Regions from separate parts of the Homo sapiens genome. Here region 2 is linked to region 1. The links come from fine-mapping of genetic effects on plasma protein levels. A gene starts in region 1. The other region holds a variant in brackets. All regions are shown on one strand. Distances are between the middles of the regions.

Region 1 (10,141 bases):
CAAAATCAGGTAAAAGTACTGAAATTTTTAGTAAAAGGAAGAACAACTGTTTCCAAAAAACTATACAAATTATTCTAAACTTCATTTGGAAAAATAAATACCCAAGTATAACCAGGAAAATTCTGAAAAATAATCCAAATGTGGTGGGAACTAGCTTTCCCACATATTAAAACATTTTGTAAAACTAGAGCAATTAAAATAGTTTGGGCTGGGTAGAGTGGCTCACATCTGTAATCCTAGCACTTCGGGGGCTGAGGCAGGAGGATCACTTGAGCCCAGGAGTTTGAGACCAGCCTGGGCAACAAAGTGAGACTCCTCTACAAAAAAATTTTTTAAAAATAGCCAGGCATTATGGCGCATGTCTATAGTCCCACCTAATTGGGAAGATGAGCTGGGAGGACTGCTTAACCCCAGGAGATCAAGGCTGCAGTGAACTATGATGGTGCCAATGCACCCCAGCCTGGGTGACAGAGCGAGGCCCTGTCTCAATTAATTAATTAAGTAAACAGTCTGGTACTGGTACATGAATAGAGACTAAAGTAGCAGAGCAGAAAGTCCAGAAACAGAGCGCTATATGTGCAAGAATTTAATATACAACAGAGGTAGAATTTCGAGCAGAAGAGAAAAGATTAACTCTTAGGTCAATGCTGCTAGGACAAATGAGCAGCCATCTGAAGAAAAATCAAGTGGGCTTCCTAACTCACTTCCTGAAAGAAATCTCAGGGGGATAAAAAAATCTGACTATAAAAAATATAGACAATACAAATATATTTGAAAAATACAAAAATATAAGACCATAAAAATATCAGAAGAAAACTAATTATAAAAAGATCTGCCCAGGCACGGTGGCTCACACCTGTAATCCCAGCATGTTGGGATGCCGAGTCAGGAGGATTACTTGAGGTCAGGAGTTTGAGACCAGCCTGGCCAACATGGTGAAACTCCATCTCTACTAAAATTACAAAAATTAGCCGGCATGGTGGTGTGCGCCTGTAATCCCAGCTACTTGTGAGGCTAAGGCAGGAGAACCACTTAAACCTGGGAGGCAGAGGTTGCAGTGAAACGAGATCGCACCACTGCACTCAAGCCTGGGCAACAGAGCAAGATTCCATCTCAAAAAAAGAAAGACAGAAAGAAAGATCTCGGTTTAACTCAAAGGCATACAGAGCAAGATTCCATCTCAAAAAAAAGAAAGACAGAAAGAAAGATCTCGGTTTAACTCAAAGGCTTACAGAGCAAGACTCCATCTCAAAAAAAAAAAAAAAGATCTTGGTTTAACTCAAAAATGCAAAAGCCTTAAGAGACTGATAACTCTGGCTTCACAAAAACATGTTTCTCCATGTTAAATAAACAGTATAATCAAAGTCCAGATGCAACATGAAAAACTGTGGAAAATATTTGTAATGTGATAAAAGACAAATTTTTAAAATACACAGAGCCCTCAGAGATTAACGAAAAACCTCATTTGTTAAGCCAGACAAATATAAAGATACATAGATGGCTTTAAACCAGGGTTTCTCAACCTCTGCACTACTGACCTTTTGGACTACATAATTCTTTGTTGTACGGAATGCTTGTGAATTGTAGGATGTGCACCAGCATCCCTGTACTCTACTCACGAGATGCCATTAGCATCTCCATTCAATTGTGACTATCAAAAATGTCTTGAGATATTACCAAATGTCCTCTGGGGATCAAATTGTCCCTGGTTTAAATACACAAAGAGATCCAAATCCACACTTGTGATAAAATAAATGCAAATTTTAACAATAATGAGGTGACACTTTTTTCTCTAATTAGATTTTCATCATTAACTATTTTGCGGTTAGCCAACAAGTGGGATTAGAGGATCTCATTTATCCTTTTGGGTGTGCAACCCTTCTGGGGGGTCATCTGGAAATATCTGTCAAAATATAAAGTGCATTTCCTCTTTTTTCTTTTTGAGACAGACTCTCACTCTCTCTCGCAGGGTGGAGGGCAGGGCAGTGGCATGATCTCGGCTCACTGCCACCTCCGCCTCCAGGTTCAAGCGGTTCTCCTGCCTCAGCCTCCTGAGTAGCTGGGATTACAGGTGCCCGCTACCAGGTCCAGCTAATTTTTGTATTTGTAATTTTTGTAATTTTGTAGTTTTAGTGGAGACGGAGTTTCACCACGTTGGCCAGGCTGGTCTCGAACTCTTGACCTCCAGTGATCCGCCCGCCTCGGCCTCCCAAAGTGCTGGGACTACAGGCGTGAGCCACTGTGCCCAGCCACATTTACTCTTTGATCCAGCAATTTCACTTCCAGGAGTTTATCCTACATATACACTTATATATGTGCAAATAGATAAATACAAGTATAATTATGGAAGCAAAAAAAGAGTATCCAAAAAACTGGAAACAGTCTAGTATCCAACAATAGGGAACAGGTTAAATAAACAAAGGTATATTCATATACAGGTTGAGCAAACCAAATCTGAAAATCTGAAATCCGAACACGTCTGGAACCAAGCATTTTGGATAATGGATACTCAAGCTGTTACAGAATATTATGCAACCATTAAAAAGGAGGAGGGGCCAGGCGCAGTGGCTTACGCCTGTAATCCCAGCACTTTGGGAGGCCGAGGCAGACGGATCACGAGGTCATGAGATTGAGACCATCCTGGCTAACATGGTGAAACCCCGTCTGTACTAAAAATACAAAAAAATCAACAGGGCGTGGTGGCACGCGCCTGAAGTCCCAGCTACTCGGGAGGCTGAGGCAGGAGAATTGCGGGAGGCGGAGGCTGCAGTGAGCCGAGATCATGCCACTGCACTCCAGACTGGAAGACAGAGCGAGACTCCATCTCAAAAGAAAAAAAAAGGAGGCGGAAGATCTGCCATGTACTAAAAATGTATGTCCCTGGGCACAGCGGTGCATGCCTGTAATCCTAAATACTCCAGAGGCTAAGAAGGGAGGAACATCAGCCTGGGAGTTCAAGGCTACAGGCCAGTCTGGGCAACATGGGAGACCCCGTCTTTAAAAAAAACAAAGAAAGAATGTCCCAAGACATACCAACTAAAAGTAGCAAGACCAAGAATAGAGTCTGCTGCTATTTTTAAGAAAGGGTATGTGTGTGTGTGTGTGTGTGTGTGTGTGTATCCGGATGTATACAAATTATGTTCATACATGCACGAAATAGAAACGTAAGTAACTGGGGAACTAGATTTTAGGGATGGGGAGACTCACTTTTTACCCTATACTCTTTGAACTGTTTTAAGTCTTTGGCTATATGCCTGCATGTTTCAGGCAAATTACAAAATCTGACAACACGTCACTCAACTCAAGATACCCAGACCTTACATAAACCAGAAAGTAGAATGGTGGTTGCCAATGTACGAGCGGAGGTGGGGAAGAGGAGTTGTTTCATGGATAGAGTTTCAGCTTGCAGATGAAAAAAGTTCTGGAGATTGACTGCACAACGATATGAATCTACTTAACACTACTGAAGTGTACACTTAAAAAACGGTTAAGATGGCAGATTTTGTACGTATTTTAACACAATTTTTTAAGGTGAAAAAAAAATCCCCCAAAGATACCCATGTTTTAAGATCGGTTTAGTTTCTAATTTGGAAATCATTTTTTAAACACTCCATTATTACTCTAGAATTGAGCGTCAGGAACAAGTGAAAACTCTTTAAACTCTGGAGCTGCTCCTGCGACCTTTCACCTAGAACTCACACGCATTCGGCCAGGCACGCACTCCTGCTAAACTCAGGGAGGGCCGGCACTGGGGGCGGCGTGGTGACTCCCCCTCGGCCCTTTACCCGTGGAAAAGGTTTCTACACTGCTGCCATCCTGTAATACAAAAGTTTGTGTTCCTTTTCACACGTTACCGCAGATTCTCGGTGCACAGTGCCCAGCGCGGACCAGAGCTCAGAGCGTGCCCAGGCAGTATCCTTGACCTCCCACAGCCGGGCCGGCCAGCCCGGGCGATCCGCGGCGGCCCCACCGAGACGCGCCCTTCGCCCGACAGGGTCTCTCCCCGCGCCGCCCCTACCCCCTTACCCGGTGTTGGGTAACATGACTTTCGTAGATCAGAGGAGGTGGCGGCGACAGCGGCGGCGGCGAGCAGAGAGCTAAAGCTGGACCGTCCCTCCGCATTTATCCCCGCCCCTGCCCCGCCCCTGCCCCCCCCGATGCCTGTGCGGGAACTGCGCGCGGAAAAGCCGGGATCGCCGAGTGCGCCTGCGTATGCAGTGGGCCTCCTGCGCCCAGCGTTCCTCTTCGTCGCCTCCCAAGCCTGGTCCCTGATTGCAGGCTCTCCGCGCAGGCGCTTTGAGGCACAGCTCCGCCCCGCCCCCTCACTGGTCGTACGGTGACAATCAGGCTCCTGTCGGCGCCTAGCGTCTGGGCAGCGTCAGCCGCTACGTCCACCTTTTCCCTGTCTCTAGGGGTTTCTCCTCGCGCCGCTGTGTTCCAGCGCCGGCTCCGAGCTGGGAGGGTGACTGAGCCCTGAGCTTGGGCCCTCCGAGAGGTGCGTTAGCTCTGGGTCTTCTTGCCCCTACGCCCGAGCCTGGCGTTCTCTCGGCCCCCTCTTAGGAACGCTAGCCCTGGGCAGAAATTGCCTTTGTGGCTGAAGTCGGCCAGCGTCGCGTTTCCACTCTCCCGCCGAATCTGGACCCAAGCCAGCCTTCCCTTGTGCATCGGTAGATAGCTTGTGTTAAGGCGCCAGCTTCTTGGAACAGAGCTCTCTGCAAAAGTCGCGCTGAAGAATTCATAGTCAAAAGCTGAACTTGCAGAAGTTTCTACTTCTGGAATGAGTGTTGAAATGAGATCAATTCTGACATTCAGTTTCGCTTTTGGGATTATGCCTTGGACTAACTCAGCTACTCTGATGAGCTAAAGACTGTAGTATATTTGAAGGAAGACACGAGGAACTGTTTTGTATTTTGTAGGGATAGAACAGGACCTTGAGGAGATTATTATATGAAGACTAGTTAAAGAAACTAGCCTGGAGATGGCTTATGTACTCTCTCCTTTGTTTTTGTTTTGTTTTTTGAGACGGAGTCTCGCTGTCGCCCACGCTGAAGTGCAGTGGCGCGGATCTCGGCTCATTGTAACCTCCGCCTCCCGGGTTCAAGTGATTCTCCTCCCTCAGCCTCCGGAGTAGCTGGGACTACAGGCATGCATCACCACGCCTGGCTAATTTTTTTGTGTTTTTAGTAGAGACGGGGTTTCGCCATGTTGGGCTGGCTGGTCTCGAGCTCCTGACCTCAAATGATTGGCCCGCCTCGGCCTTCCAAAGTGCTGGGATTACAGGCGTGAGCCTCCGCGCCCGGCCTCTCTCCCCTTTGTTATGGGCCCTAAATGACTCTATTTCCTCCTGCATATCACCTGCCCGACTCCTGTAGGCATTTGAATTGATGATTCATGATACGGTCTTTAGAGGCTCCAGAGGAATTTGCAAATTATTATCATCCACTAAGTGATTGCTGATTACCTGAGATACAGCAGCTCAAAAAGGACAAGGTCTCTGCCTATGGGAGGTATGAGTAGCCAGTGTGTTCTTTAGACTGTTGTTAAGCATTAGGTGTTTTAAGAAGAGTGTTGATAGAGACTGTTAGATGAAAATAACTTACTCTCCTCTCATCCTTAGGAGCACTTGCTGAAGCGTGTATATATCTGTCGAATAGAGTGAATTCTTAGTAACGGGGTGACATTTCCTTCATATCATCTAAAATGTTCTCTCCTTTTTGAAAGCCACAATATCTTCAGTCTGTTAGAGCCTCCTTTCTTGAATTTGTGTGCTTCTATTTCCATTTGTTACGGAAAGAGAGCTCAACGAAGAGGCAAAGCAAACAAAAAACCTTTGCCAATTTTTCAGTCATAACGATATTTTGTGAGCCTAAATACCTGTACTTACACTATTTTTATACTTTGCGATGGCTTTCACAGAAGGCAAATATATTCCTAAATTATTAGAGGTAGTTTTACCAAGCAAGTTTAAATCCATTGTATTCAGTACTTTGACTAGAGTTCATTTAAAGTGTGATTTGGAGTTACCCATGACCTTCTACCCCATTACCTTGATTAACCTAGTGTTAGATTAATGCTAGAGGTGAGGAATGGGTGAAGGAGAGGACTTGTGAACATAATTAGATCTTCATTTTGGAAGGTGAATAATTTTGGCTTAGAACACTTCTGACTGCAGCATGAAGAATAGTTTGTGAGTAGATAAAGGCACAGAAGCCATTTAAAAGCCCATAGTAATGTAATGTGTAAGAAAAGTAGTAACCTGAACTAAGGCAGTAATAGTAGAAATGAAAAGACATACTCAAGATATGGAACCTGGCAGATGTAACTAATGATTAGATGTAGGAGCAAAGGGGGAAGATGGTATCAGTGGTGACCTTCAGATTTCTGGTGTAAAGTCCTGGGAGGATGGTGATAACACAGTAAAGAAGTGAAAACAAATGGTTTGAAAAATAGATGTCTTGAAAGTCAGGTAAGTCTCACTCATTTCACCCCTTCTCAGCTTGATAAAACTACCTAAAAATGCAACAGTTTCCTGACAGACTACTGGTTACAACACATTCTCCCAACCAATTTATATCCCTTAAGTTTTGGTTATATGCAACATTAATGTAATTTGGCTAATTTAAACCAAATTAAAGGGGTTGGAGAATTTAGAAGAATTCTGGGATAGTTTATATAACTTAAGGAAGAGCTGAACAACTAAGCTTGACAATGGGAACTAAGGTGCTTCCATGATCCTCAGCAGCATGATCTTTCTAGAATGCATTGTAGGTGGCTTCCCTGTCTTTTCTGTGTATCTGTTCAAGCTTCAAATACTAAGACAGTCTAGTACAATGTGTTTCGTTTTGTTTTGTTTTTTTGAGATAAGATCTTGCTCTGTCACCCAGGCTGGAGTGTAGCAGCATGATCATGGCTCACTGTAGCCTCAACCTCCTGGGCTCAGCCACCCAAGTAGCCAGGACCACGGGCATGTGCCACCACACCTGGCTAATTTTACTTTTTATAGACACAGGGGTCTCACTATGTTGCCCAGGTTGGTCTTGAACTCCTCACCTCAAGCAATCCTCCCACCACACAGCCTTCCAAGGTGCTGGGAAATGTTTCAACCTGTAAATTAGTTGGCCATGGCCAGGGACACAAGTGGATATGGACAATGGGGAAGTAACACAACATTGCATACCTACCTACCCCAGGTCATGGAAGTTGCGTAAATGTAGAGCAAGTAAATTGGCATTCATAATTCTGGGAAGAAAGGGGTCATAAAACTTTTTATTTCATAGGGCTTGTGATGGTTAATACTGAGTGTCAACTTGATGGTATTGAAGGATGCAAAGTATTGGTCTTGGGTGTATCTGTGAGGGTATTGCCAAAGGACATTAACATTTGAGTCAGTGGGCTGGGAAGGGCAGACCCACCCTTAATCTGAGTGGGTACCATCTAATCAGCTGCCAGTGAATATAAGACAGGCAGAAAAACCTGAAAAGATGAGACTGGCCTAGCCTCCCAGCCTACATCCTTCTCCTGTGCGTTTATCCCCTTCTTGCCCTCCAACATCAGACTCCAGGTTCAGTTTCGGGACTTGGACTGGCTCTCCTTGCACCTCAGCTTGCAGATGGCCTATTATGGGACCTTGTGATCATGTGAGTTAATACTTAATAGGCTGGGCGCGGTGGCTTATGCCTGTAATCCCAGCACTTTGGGAGGCCGAGGCAGGCGGATCACAAGGTCAAGAGATGGAGACCATCCTGGCCAACGTGGTGAAACCCCATCTCTACTAAAAATACAAAAAGTAGCTGGGCGTGGTAGCACACACCTGTAGTCCCAGCTACTCGGGAGGCTAAGGCAGGAGAATCGCTTGAACCTGGGAGGCGGAGGTTGCAGTGAGCGGAGACCACGCCACTGCACTCCAGCCTGGTGACAGACCGAGACTCTTTCTCAAAAAAAAAAAAAAAAAAAACTTAATAAACTCCCCTACACACACACACACACACACACACACACACACACACACGTATATAAGGAAGTAATAGGATATATATATATATATATATATCCTCTAGAGAACCCTGACTAATACGGATTTTGGTACCAGAAGTAGGGTCCAGAACAGGAGAAGGCTCTGCAACAGGTCCAGGCTGCTGTGCAAGCTGTTCTGCCACTTGGGCCATATGACCCAGCAGATCCAATAGTGCTTGAGGGATGAGTGGCAGATAGGGATGCTATTTGGAGCCTTTGCCAGGCCACCATAAATGAATCACAGTGGAGGCCTCTAGGATTTTGGAGCAAGACCCTGCCTTCTTCTGCAGATAACTACTCTCCTTTTGAGAGACAGCTCTTAGCCTGTTACTGGGCTTTGGTGGAAACTGAACGTTTGACTATGGGTCATTAAGTCACCATGTGACCTGAACTGCCTATCATGAACTGGATGCTTTCTGACCCATCTAGCCATAAAGTGGGTCGTGCACAGCAGTATTCCATCATCAAGTGGAAGTGTTATATGCATGATTGGGCTCTAGCAGGTCCTGAAGGCACCTGAGGAATAAGTTACATGAGGAAGTGGCTCAAATGCTCATGGTCTCCGCTCGTGCCACCCTGCCTTCTTTGCCCTAGCCTGCACCAGTGGCCTCATGGGGAGTTCCCTATGATCATGATCAGTTGACATGATCAGTTGACAGAGGAAGAGAAGACTAGGGCCCGGTTCACAGATGGTTTTGCATGATACGCAGGCATCATCTGAAAGTGGACAGCTGCAGCACTACAGCCCCTTTCTAGGACATCCCTGCAGGCCAGCAATAAAGGGAAATCTTCCCAGTGGGCAGAACTTCCAGCAGTGCACCTGGATGTGCACTTTGCATGGAAGGAGAAATGGCCAGATGTATGATTATACACTAATTCATGGGCGGTAGCCAGTGATTTGGCTGGATGGTCAGGGACTTGGAAGAAGCAAGATTGGAAAATTGGTGACAATAAAATTTGGGGAAGAGGTATGTAGATGGACCTCTCTGAATGCTCAAAAACTGTGAAGTGCTAACCAACGGGTGACCTTAGCAGAGGAGGATTTTAATAATCAAGTGGATAGGATGACTCGTTCTGTGGACACCACTCAGCCTCTTTCCCCAACCACCCCTGTCATCATCCAGTGGACCCGTGAACAAAGTGGCCATGGTGGCAGGGATGGAGGTTATTCATGGGCAACAGGGACTTCCACTCACCAAGGCTGACCTGGCTACAGCCACTGCTGAGTGCCCAATTTGCCAGCAGCAGAGACCAACACTGAGCCCTCAATATGGCACAGTTCCTCATGGTGATAAGCCAGCTACCTGGTGGCAGGTTGATTATATTGAACCTCTTCCATCATGGAAAAGGCAGAGGTTTGTCCTCACTGGAATAGACACTTACTCTGGATATGGGTTTGCCTATCTTGTACACAATGCTTCTGCCAAGACTACCATCCATGGACTCACAGAATGCCTTATCCACTGTCGTGGTATTCCACACAGCATTGCCTCTGAACAAGATACTTACTTTATGGCTAAAGAAGTGTGGCAGTGGGCTCATGCTCATGGAATTCACTGGTCTTACCATGTTCCCCATCATCTTGAAGCAGCTGGATTGATAGAACAGTGGAATGGCCTTTTGATGTCACAATTACAACACCAACTAGGTGACAATACTTTGCAGGGCTGGGGCAAAGTTCTCCAGAAGGTTGTGTATGCTCTGAATCAGTGTTCAATATATGGTACTGTTTCTCCCATAGCCAGGATTCATGGGTCCAGGAATCAAGGGGTAGAAGTGGAAGTGGCACTACTTACCGTAACGCCCAATGATCCACTAGCAAATATTTGCTTCCTGTTCCTGTGACATTACATTCTGATGGCCTAGAGGTCTTAGTTCCAGAGGGAGGAATGCTGCCACCAGGAGACACAACAATGATTCCATTAAATGGGAAGTTAAGATTGCCACCTGGACATTTTGTGCTCCTCCTACCTTTTAAGTCAATGGGCTAAGAAGGGAGTTAGTGTTGCCTGGTGTGATTGACCCGGATTATCAAGATGAAATCAGTCTACTACTCCACAGTATTCACAGGAGATCCATTAGGGCATCTCAGTGTTACCATACCCCGTGGTTAAGGTCGATGGGAAAC
Region 2 (10,141 bases), 58 kb before region 1:
AAAGTACAAAACAGTTTAAAAACAGAAGGCAGAAATGTCACTGTTATAGGATCAATTCCATATTTTGGAAGAAATACATAAGTTAGGATTTATATTTTCTAACATAAAATATAGTCTAGATCTTACCAGTTGATTCCACTTTCTTGCTAACTGCTTCTGGGTATTCATCTAAGAAGAAATCTGGTTGCAAAGGATGACCTGAAAAATTGACCCCAAACCATTAGGTTAATGTAACTACAACATAGTAAGATTTTAACATCTGTTTAATAAACATATCTATTTTATTAAAAATCTTTCTGGTGCAAAAGAAAAGGCCTCTGTGAGAACTGTCGAATGACCTGATCTTCATTAAATTAATTTTCTCATAATTCAGTTATCTTTCTCTCCTCTGATAAATTTTATCTTCAAGATTTAATCCCCAAAAGATCACCTGTTCTGTAAAGCCTTTACCTGCTCTCCCAGGAACCTCTGCCCTTCTCATCCTACACTGCTCTTCTGGCCCACATTCTTCCGAAGTTGTCAGGACTTATTTCTTACCTGCCGTCCTAAAAGCAGAGGGCCCCTTCTTAAGAAGGACTTTCTTCTCAGCATTAGTGCACTTGGGTCTCTTCTCTCTTTCCCTCTTCCTCTCACTCCATCATCATGAACACTAAGCTATCCTATTCCATCCTATTCCACTGGGTTATTATTATTATTATTGACACAGGGTCTCACTGTCACCCAGGCTGGAGTGCAGTGATATGATCTTGGCTCACTGCAACCTCCACCTCCTGGGCTCAAGTGATCCTCCTCCCTCAGCCTCCCAAGTAACAGGGACCACAGGTGCAAGCCACCATATCCAGCTAATTTTTATTTATTTATTTATTATTTATTTATTTATTTATTTTTTGAGACGGAGTCTCGCTCTGTCACCCAGGCTTGAGTGCAGTGGCACGATCTCAGCTCATGGCACCCTCTGCCTCCCAGGTTCAAGCAATCCTCCTGCTTCAGCCTCCCAAGTAGCTGGGATTACAGGTGCCCATCACTATGCCTGGCTACTTTTCATATTTTTAGTAGAGATAGAGTTTCACCATATTGGTCAGGCTGGTCTCAAACTCCTGACCTAGGATATCCACCCACCTCAGCCTCCCAATGTGCTGGGATTATGGGCGTGAGCCACCGTGCCTGAACACTCATTTTTATTTTTTGTAGAGATGGGGTTTTGCCATGTTGCCCAGTATGGTCTTGAACTCCTTGGCTCAAGCGATCCACTGGCCTTGGCCTCCCAAAGTGCTGGGATTACAGGTGTGAGCCACTGCACACAGCCTCCACTGGGTCTTATTTTCAGCTAATGGTTGTGGTTAGCAAATAGGTTAACTGTTTTAATTACACTGATAACTCCAAGACATGTGCACACTAGAAGATTTAAAGGCCACAAAGCCTTCAAAACTGTAGTACAGTGAGATGTTAACAATCTCAATTGTTCTCTTTTTCTTTTCTCTCTTTTTTTTTTTGACATGGGGTCTTGCTGTTTTGCCCAGGCTGGTCTCAAACTTCTGGGCTCAAATGAGCCTCCTGCCTCGGTCTCCTGCCTCTCTCTCTCTCTTTTTCAGAAGTTTAAGCAAACTTCTGGAGGGCAGGAATGAATTCATCTTTGTTATATCCTAATATCATAGTATCTGGTCATTTTAAGTTCTCAATACTTAATAGGATTTTTAATTTAAATAAAATTTTAAAACTTGCGCACAATTACACTGTGTCTTTAAAACCTAAGGTAATAATTATATTCCTGGGTACCAGGACCCGGAAGACCTGAATCTGGTCAGGTTCTGCCACCTATTAGCCATCTGCTCTTAGGCAAAGGCTCAATCTCTCTGAGCCTGTTTTTCCACTTGTAAATATTAACTACTAAATATTCTGAGTGTACTATATGCTGGGCACTGTGCCAAACACATTATACATTATCACATTTAGCCTTTACAAAAATCTTGTATGAAATGTATCATTCTCTTAAGTTTACCAATATGGAAATTGAGGCTGAGACAGACAAACTGGGTGACATGCTCAAAGCTGCATAGCAGTGAGCAGCAGAGCTGCAATATGAAGCTGGGTTGTCTTCTCCCAAATTTCGTGTTCTTAATCACTAAGCATTACTTTCCGTACAGAATTGTTATGCAGGCTAAATAGATAATGCATATAAGAGTGCTTTGTAAAACTATAATCCGCTATTTACTTTAGTTTGAACTGCAGAGATGAGCAGGGATGATACAAATATAAACGTGGTTTGTGTCATTTAGAAGCTCAGTTTAATGAATAATATTTAAAATATACTTTAGCGCAAATAAATATAACTCCTATGTATGGCTATATTAGAATACATCATATTCTATATGGTAAAAATCCATTATTATCATTATCATCCCCAATTTCAGAGAGGGAGAGTTACTTAACAAGAGGGCTTTCTAGAAGCTTCTCAGATCACTTTACTGTCCATGAGACAGAGCCTGCCCACTCATCTACACCATCTGTCATTAAGCTACTCTAAGAGACTGCGCTTAAGAGACAAATATTTAGAGAGTCCACAATCATAAATTATTTTAAACAAAAAAATTCATTACTGTGCCAGGTGCAGTGGCTCACGCCTGTAATCCTAACACTTTAGGAGGCCAAGGCAGGCAGATCACTTGAGCTCAGGAGTTCAAGACCAGCCTGGGCAACATGGTGAAACCCCACATCTACAAATACAAAAATTAACCAGGTGTGGTGGCACATGCCTATAGTCCCAGCTACTCTAGAGGCTGAGGTGGAAGGATTGCTTGAGCCTGGGAGGTAGAGGTTGCAGTGAGCTGAGATTGCGCCACTACACTCCAACCTGGGTGACAGAGTGAGACCCTTTCTCAAATAAATAAATAAATACATAACCCACTACTGTACCATCTGTTACCACATATTCTTGAACAAAATCTTTACTCTGTGATTTTAAGACCAACTTTAAAAAATAATTTTCATTTCTTATTTCGAGATTTAGAAGTGGCTAGTAACTGATCTGACTTTCTGTGCTTATATATATATATATATATATCACTTCAAAAGCCCTCAACTCACCTCTATTTTTCATTCATCTTTTTTTTTAAGTTGTGTTGGTATGGGTTTTCTTCCTTCATTGGGAAGACAGCTTTTAAAAGAACACATTCATTTTACAATCACACAAACACACACAAAAAACAGATATGTTCATTGCAGAAAATATGGAAAAACGTATCACTACTTTTAAAAACTATAAAAGCATTACCTGGTTTAATTGCATAAACGTCAAAATTTTCTATTCCTTCTTCTTTTAAGATATTTTCATCAATGACAAAGTTGCCAGTAAAACTTTTTGGCTTTTGGAAAATGGAATATGCTGCATCTGCAATGATATCAACTTTTCTACACTGGCTTTCGATACCAGGTCCTCCCAGCATATCCATAGCAGCAGTGTGTATGGCTGTAGAGAAAACACACACACACATACACTCATAACTCCAAATCAAATAATAAAACTATGGAAGTAACAAGCAAGCACCACCCTTCACAATTATCAAGGCTAATCCTTTCATTTCTTAGCTGATGAAAACAAAGTCCAGATTGCTTAAGGGATTTGCCAAATTTTTTTTGTTTTTTTGTTTTTATTTTTGTTTTTGAGACAGTCTTGCACTGTCACCCAGGCTGGGGTGCAATGGCGTGATCTCCGCTCACCGCAACCTCTGCCTCCTGGGTTCAAGTGATTGAACCCAGCCTTCTGAGTAGCTGGGATTACAGGCGTGCGCCACCACTGCTGGCAATTTTTTTGTATTTTTAATAGAAACGGGGTTTCACCATGTTGGCTGGTCTCGAACTCCTGACCTTGTGATCCGTCCGCCTCAGCCTCCCAAAGTGCTGGGATTACAGGCATGAGCCACCACGCCTGGCCCCAGGATTTACCAAATGTTCTACGGAGAGAACTGGGTGGAAAACACATGTTCCTTACCCTGCAACACTGCCTTATACTACAGACCAAACCATAAGACTCAAAGTAAAATTCAATGAACTTTCTGATTTAGAATGCTCAAGAATTTGCATGCCTGTTTAAGGAATAACTGAAGAGACCTCTAATAGCTTCCAATTGATTCTCCTGATAACAGCTAAGAGATTACTGCCTGAAAACAGACAGTACCAACAGTCTTAATGCCAAAGATTTCCTTTCACATAAACATATGGAGTGCGTATGAGGCTTAAAACATCAGCATTGCCTGTGATGACTCCTTCTCTGGGAAGAGAGCTTGTTTCGCCTCTTTAACACCTGTCAGCCACCACCAAACACATGCACACATTCTTGTGGGTATTCACTGAACCAACAATACCACTGATTATACAGTGCACCATTACTTTAGGGACCACTAAGGAAACAAAAAAGCTGCCAATTAAATTATGATATATCATCTATTGTAAGAAACAGACTGGTATCTGAGATGTACAAATATAAAGCATGGGCATCTCAGAATCAATGAAAGTAGTATAAACTCTTTCACCTAGTCAGTGAATAGGTTCCTTGAAAAACACTCAATAAATATTGGTTGGATTTCTGGGGGTCCTTTTTAAATTCACACAACACTGTTTTGTAGAAAATATTAGAAAATAGCTAGGTGCGGTGGCTCACGCCTGTAATCCC[G/A]GCACTGTGGGAGGCCGAGGTGGGTGGATCACTTGAGGTCAGGAGTTTGGGACAAGCCTGGTCAACATGGTGAAACCCCATCTCTACTAAAAATACAAAAATTAGCCAAGCATGGTGGCGAGCGCCTGTAGTCCCAGCTACTTGGGAGGCAGAGGTAGGAGAATTGCTTGAACCTGGGAGGCAGAGGTTGCAATGAGCTGAGATTACTCCACTGTTCTCCAGCCTGGGTGACAGAGCGAGACTCCGTCTCAAAAAAAAAAAAAAAAAGAAAAAAAGAAAAGAAAGAGAAGTAAAAGGAAAAAATTGCTTAATTAATTATAATTTCCCTATCCAGGGATAACTGCTGTTAATGTTTGCATAAAATTTTTACCATGTTAGGTGTACTTTTAAAATTATGTCTCTTATGTGAAGTAACTTTAAACTCTACAATTAACAGTACATTATTAATTACACATTGTCAACAGTAACATCTCAATTTTCTTACATATATCCTAGTTTACATCAAACAAGAAAAGTCTATTTATTTATTTATTTACTTTCCAACATAATTCATAGGTTCACAGAAAGTCAACTTATTTAAATGTACTTAGGTTTGTGAGTTTCTAGTATTTTAGTTAAAGCTTATTTCCATATATTGTTAAAATACAATTTTAAATTATTACATACTAGAATAACTTACATATTTTCATCTATAAGATGAAATGTCTGTAGCTTTTAAGAGCCATTGGCCCTTTTTCATTCATTTAACAAATAGTTATTAAGCACTTACTATATGTAAGTCAGGCGCTATTCTAGATATTAAGGACACAGATGTTGACAAAACAGACATAAGGCATCTACCTTCATGGAACTTACATCCCTATTTTGTTTAATGTTCAATTAATTTAGGGAATTTCTTGAAAGCACTGAGTTAGAAGACACTTTTCTACTTCATAACTAAAAATCATTTACTAGGAATAATTTTTTTTTTTTTTTTTTTTTTTTTGAGATAGGGTCTCACACTGTCACCCAGGCCAAAGGCAGTGGTGAGATCATGGCTCTCTGCAGCCTTGATCTCCTGGGCTCTCAAACGATCCTCCTACCTCACCCTCCCACCATATCCAGCTTTTTTTTTTGGTAGAAATGGGGTCCTGCTATGTTTCCCAGGCTGGTCTCCAACTCGTGGGCTCAAGCCGTCCTCCTGCCTTGGCCTTCCAAAGTGCTGGGATTACAGGTGTGAGCCACCGTGTCCAGCCCTAGAAATAATTTTTTCCTTAACCAACAGATCAAGAGCAAGAGCTCTGGTCTCACTCTTGAACTGATCCTTTATTAATAATAAAAAAAAAATAGCAGCTGAATGTTGTGGCTAGAGCCTATAATCCCAGATATTCTGGAGGCTGAGGCAGGAAGATTGCTTGAGCCTAGGAATTTGAGGCTGCAGTGAGCTATGACTGTGCCATTGCATTCTAGCCTGGGTGACAGAGTGAGACCCTATTTGTTTGTCAAAAAAACAGAAAAATTAAAAATGAATAAAATAAAATAAAAAATAGCACCTACCATTCATTAAGTGTACCCTGTGCCAGGCATGCTGTTACCTATTTTACATACATTATCTTACCTAATTCTTAGAACCCTGAGGTAGGTCCTGTTGTTATTCCCATTTTATAAATAGGAGCAGTGAAGCACAGAGAAGTTAAGTAACTTGCCCAAGGTCACAGAAGCTAAAATTCAAACACCCAGCAGCCTGACTTCAGAGCCAGGCTCTCATCCTTAATGCAACTAAATGGTTAACCTTGTTAACCAAAGTTCTTGGAGTTCAGTTATCATCTCACTCCCGAAAACTGCAGAACTTTTCTGTACATAATTGAGTATAATCTATTTTGAGACTATATGCATACATGCACACTGCTAGTCTCCATGTAAACTACATGAATTGTACAAGAATCCTTAAAAACTCTAAATTAGAAGTCTAATAAAATATGTCATGTATAAGTATATACATGCTGTGTGTGTGTGTGTGAGTGTCTATAGAATAAGAAATGTTCCTCCAACCTATCATTACTTTAACAATCTTTCTAGGAAAGATACAAAGAAGGTACAACTAGGCACTCAAAACTCAAGGAGTGGGCCATTGAGTATTTCTCAACACAGATTTTGCAATGCCAACAAGCTAACCCAATAGGTTAGAAAAAACTGGTAACAATAAAAGCAGGTTAACAGTAGGATCAATCAAATGAAATTCACTGATGATTTCTGGGAAAGAAAATAAGCAAAATTTATAATGAAAGCAGATAAGCCATGGATCACAAGAGTCAACAACATCGACCTGAAAACTTAAGTCTTATTAAGAAATAACTGAAGAGACATCTAATAGCTTCCAATTGATTCTCCTGATAACAGCTAAGAGATTACTGCCTGAAAACAGACAGTACCAACAGTCTTAAGACCAAAGATTTCCTTTCACATAAACATATGAAGTGTGTATGAGGCTTAAAATATCAGCATTGCCTGTGATGACTCCTTCTCTGGGAAGAGAGCTTGTTTCCCCTCTTTGACACCTGTCAGCCACCACCAAACATATCCACACACTCATGTGTGTATCCACTGAACCAATGATACCACTGATTATACAGCGCACCATTACCTTAGGGACCACTAAAGAAAGAAAAAAGCTGCCAATTAAACTATGATATATCATCCATTGTAAGATACAGACTGAGATCAGAGATGTACAAATATAAAGCATGGGCATGTCAGAATCAATGAAAATGGTATAAACTGTTTAACCTAGTTAGTGAACAGGTTTTGATTTCTAGCACCAGACAGGAAGGAGGTGAGCTGCCACCTTGTCGCCTCACCCTCCCTGGTTAGCTGAGTTCCCAAATCTATTTGTAATATAGTCCAGGTGACAGAAGTCTGCAGCTGCTCTGTGGTACTTCTACTGCCTTCCTCTCTGTAGCCATTACCAAATCAGTAGCTGCCATTCCCAGACTCCCCACCCCAAGCCCAAATCAAATCCACCCAAAAGTGGACTTTCCTGCTTCTACCATACTTGCCCAGACCAGTCATGAGGTAAGAGTAGGCATTGTGAATAGCAGCCATCATCCCTCTCCCCTTCCCCACCCTCCATTTCAGCAAGAACCATGAAACAGGTCTTATAAAAAGAAAAAAATTACAATTCTGGAGGTGACCTAGTTGGAAGCCTGAAATTCCATGTTGTGAAACAACTAGAGGCCGGCCCTCTGATCCTTTCTCTGGATGTGCTGAATTCAGCAGGGTGGAAGTGCTAAAACCAGGAGGAGCAATGAAGTCAGTGTTGAGAAGAACATGCAGCTGAGAAGCCAAGTGGGAGACCGGGACACTGCTCTGATTGAGGATAATGTATGTTACACTGTACCCACTCCGTTAAGCACAATAAATCTCCTTTTTCTTGAAAGGCAATAATGTTGGGAGATTACTTCTGGTTCCAGCTGACATAAAGAGAGTCACTCTACGCTGTCGTCTAAGATGAGGAGATGAGTGTTTTCTTTTAAATAGAGGCCTCTCAAACAGCCAAGAGCCTGAACACCCTCTCAAATCCATTTTCACTCCTCCATTTTCATTGCCTCACTCATGAATAATGTAATATTCTAGCTAGCTTTCCTGCCTCTTCTCTCTACAGTCTTACAAGCCATCCCATATTCAGATGCCAGATTAAACTTCCTAAACCTCATCAGCAACCATATTACTTCACTGCTCCTATTTTCCCCAGTTTATTATTAATCCTCTGCTTCTAAGATTCTTCAGTGGCTCTCCACTGAATATAGGTTAAAATTCAAGCTCCTAAACTTGGCAGACAAGACCATCCATCTCATCCATCTTCCCCACACTCTCAAACTCACCCAACATTCCAGTCAACCTGTACAACTTGAGTTGCTCAAGTTCAGTGGGAAATAACAAGCCCACACCCTATCATACATACACCAACCTTGTAGTTCCACCGCACAGAAAGTATTTTCCCAAACTGCAATCTTTGCATGCGTCGCTCCCTCTGCCAAGAAATGTCTTTCCCAGTTCTCCTTTTTGAAAAATTCCAACATCCCCTTGAGATCTCATTTCAATTGTTTACCTACTTTTGAAAATCTACTGCTCTGATCCTTTATCCTGAGCTACTATGTCTCAAAAGCACCCTGTAGGCCAGGCACGGTGGATCACACCTGTAATCCCAGCACTTTGGGAGGCTGAGGTGGGTGGATCACTTGAGGTCAGGAGTTCTAGAGCACCCTCGCCAATGTGGTGAAACCCCTGTCTCTACTAAAAAAAAAAATACAAAAATTAGCCAGGTGTGGTGGTGCATGCCTGTAGTCCCAGCTACTCAGGAGGCTGAGGCAGGATAATCACTTGAACTCAGGAGGCACAGGTTTCAGTGAGCCGAGATGGCGCCACTGCATTCCAGCCTGGGTGACAGAGATTCTGTCTCAAAAAACAAAAACAAAACACAACATCCAGTACATAATTCATCATACCATGCACCACAAGGAACATGACTGTAAATTGGATTTAGTGTGTCATCAAGTCTAGGACCAAATAACATCACTGGCTCCAAGATGTCTAGTAAACCTTCTAAAATGAATATCTTGAAGCTAAAGCAAAGATCTCAGCAATGAGCTGATTTTTCCTGCTGGACCAGATAATGCCCTCTATATTCCCTGATACAGAACATTCTGCCTATTATATAAGCTTTGTCCAGAATATATTTTGGAGCTAGGCAGAAGGTAATCATATTGCACATTCATTCACTCATTTACTCACTCATCAAATATTTATTGAATGTCTACAATGACTATAATAAAACAAACAAAGCAAACACTGTCCCTATCCTCAAGAAGTTTTCATTCTAGCAAAGAAGACACTGAACAACCATAATTATAAATTAATAATTACAAACGGTGTAAGTGATGTGAAGGGGATGTACAGACTACTAAACCTGACGATCAGTCCCATTTTGTAAGAACTATCAGCATAATCTGACACAATTGATCACTCCCTGTATTAGTCTGTTCTCGCATTACTATAAAGAAATACCTAGGCTCGGCACAGTGGCTCACACCTGTAATCCCAGCACTTTGGGAGGCCTAGGTGGGTGGATCACCTGAGGTCAGGAGTTCAAGACCAGACTGGTCAACATGGTGAAACCCCGTCACTACTAATAATACAAAAAAATTAGCCAGGTGTGGTGGCGCACGCCTGTAATCCCAGCTACTCAAGAGGCTGAGGCAGGAGAATCGCTTGAACCTGGGAGGCGGAGGTTGCAGTGAGCTGAGATCGCACCACTGCACTCCAGTCCAGCCTGGGCAACAGAGCAAGACTCCGTCTCAAAAAAAAAAAAAAAAAAGAAAGAAATACCTGAGACTGGGTAATTTATAAAAGAGGTTTAACTGGCTCACAGTTCTGCATGCTGTACAAGCATGGCTCCAACATCACTTGGCTTCTGGGGAGGCCTTGGGGAGCTTG

Which allele goes with the higher level. Positions count from the first base shown, and alleles are read on the strand shown. Strength reflects both the effect of a copy and how common the allele is.
For the plasma level of the protein whose gene starts at base 4,099 in region 1, A is the high allele of the variant in region 2 and G is the other (strong association).

What was found. PIP is the posterior inclusion probability: the model's chance that the variant is causal. The UK Biobank Pharma Proteomics Project read protein levels with antibody pairs (Olink). The fine-mapping took linkage between variants from a reference panel, not from the people measured, so its PIPs are less certain.
Region 2: its variant is fine-mapped to the plasma level of the HSDL2 protein (UK Biobank, PIP above 0.99).

Annotation. Positions count from the first base shown.
Region 1 is chr9:112,374,066-112,384,206 of GRCh38, reverse strand. It overlaps HSDL2 (hydroxysteroid dehydrogenase like 2), which reads right to left and starts at 4,099. Exons shown (of 11, transcript NM_032303.5): 1 at 4,027-4,099. The coding sequence starts at 4,043. It also overlaps a transcript of PTBP3 not described here. RefSeq lists a silencer at 3,896-4,145 and enhancers at 4,366-4,485, 3,917-4,516, 4,516-4,765, 4,866-4,915.
Region 2 is chr9:112,431,756-112,441,896 of GRCh38, reverse strand. HSDL2 (hydroxysteroid dehydrogenase like 2) reads right to left here. Exons shown (of 11, transcript NM_032303.5): 7 at 3,272-3,466; 8 at 127-198. Among named protein-coding and RNA genes, the nearest start is that of KIAA1958, 50 kb to the left of the region's middle. The variant G/A (reference allele first, on the strand shown) is at 4,670.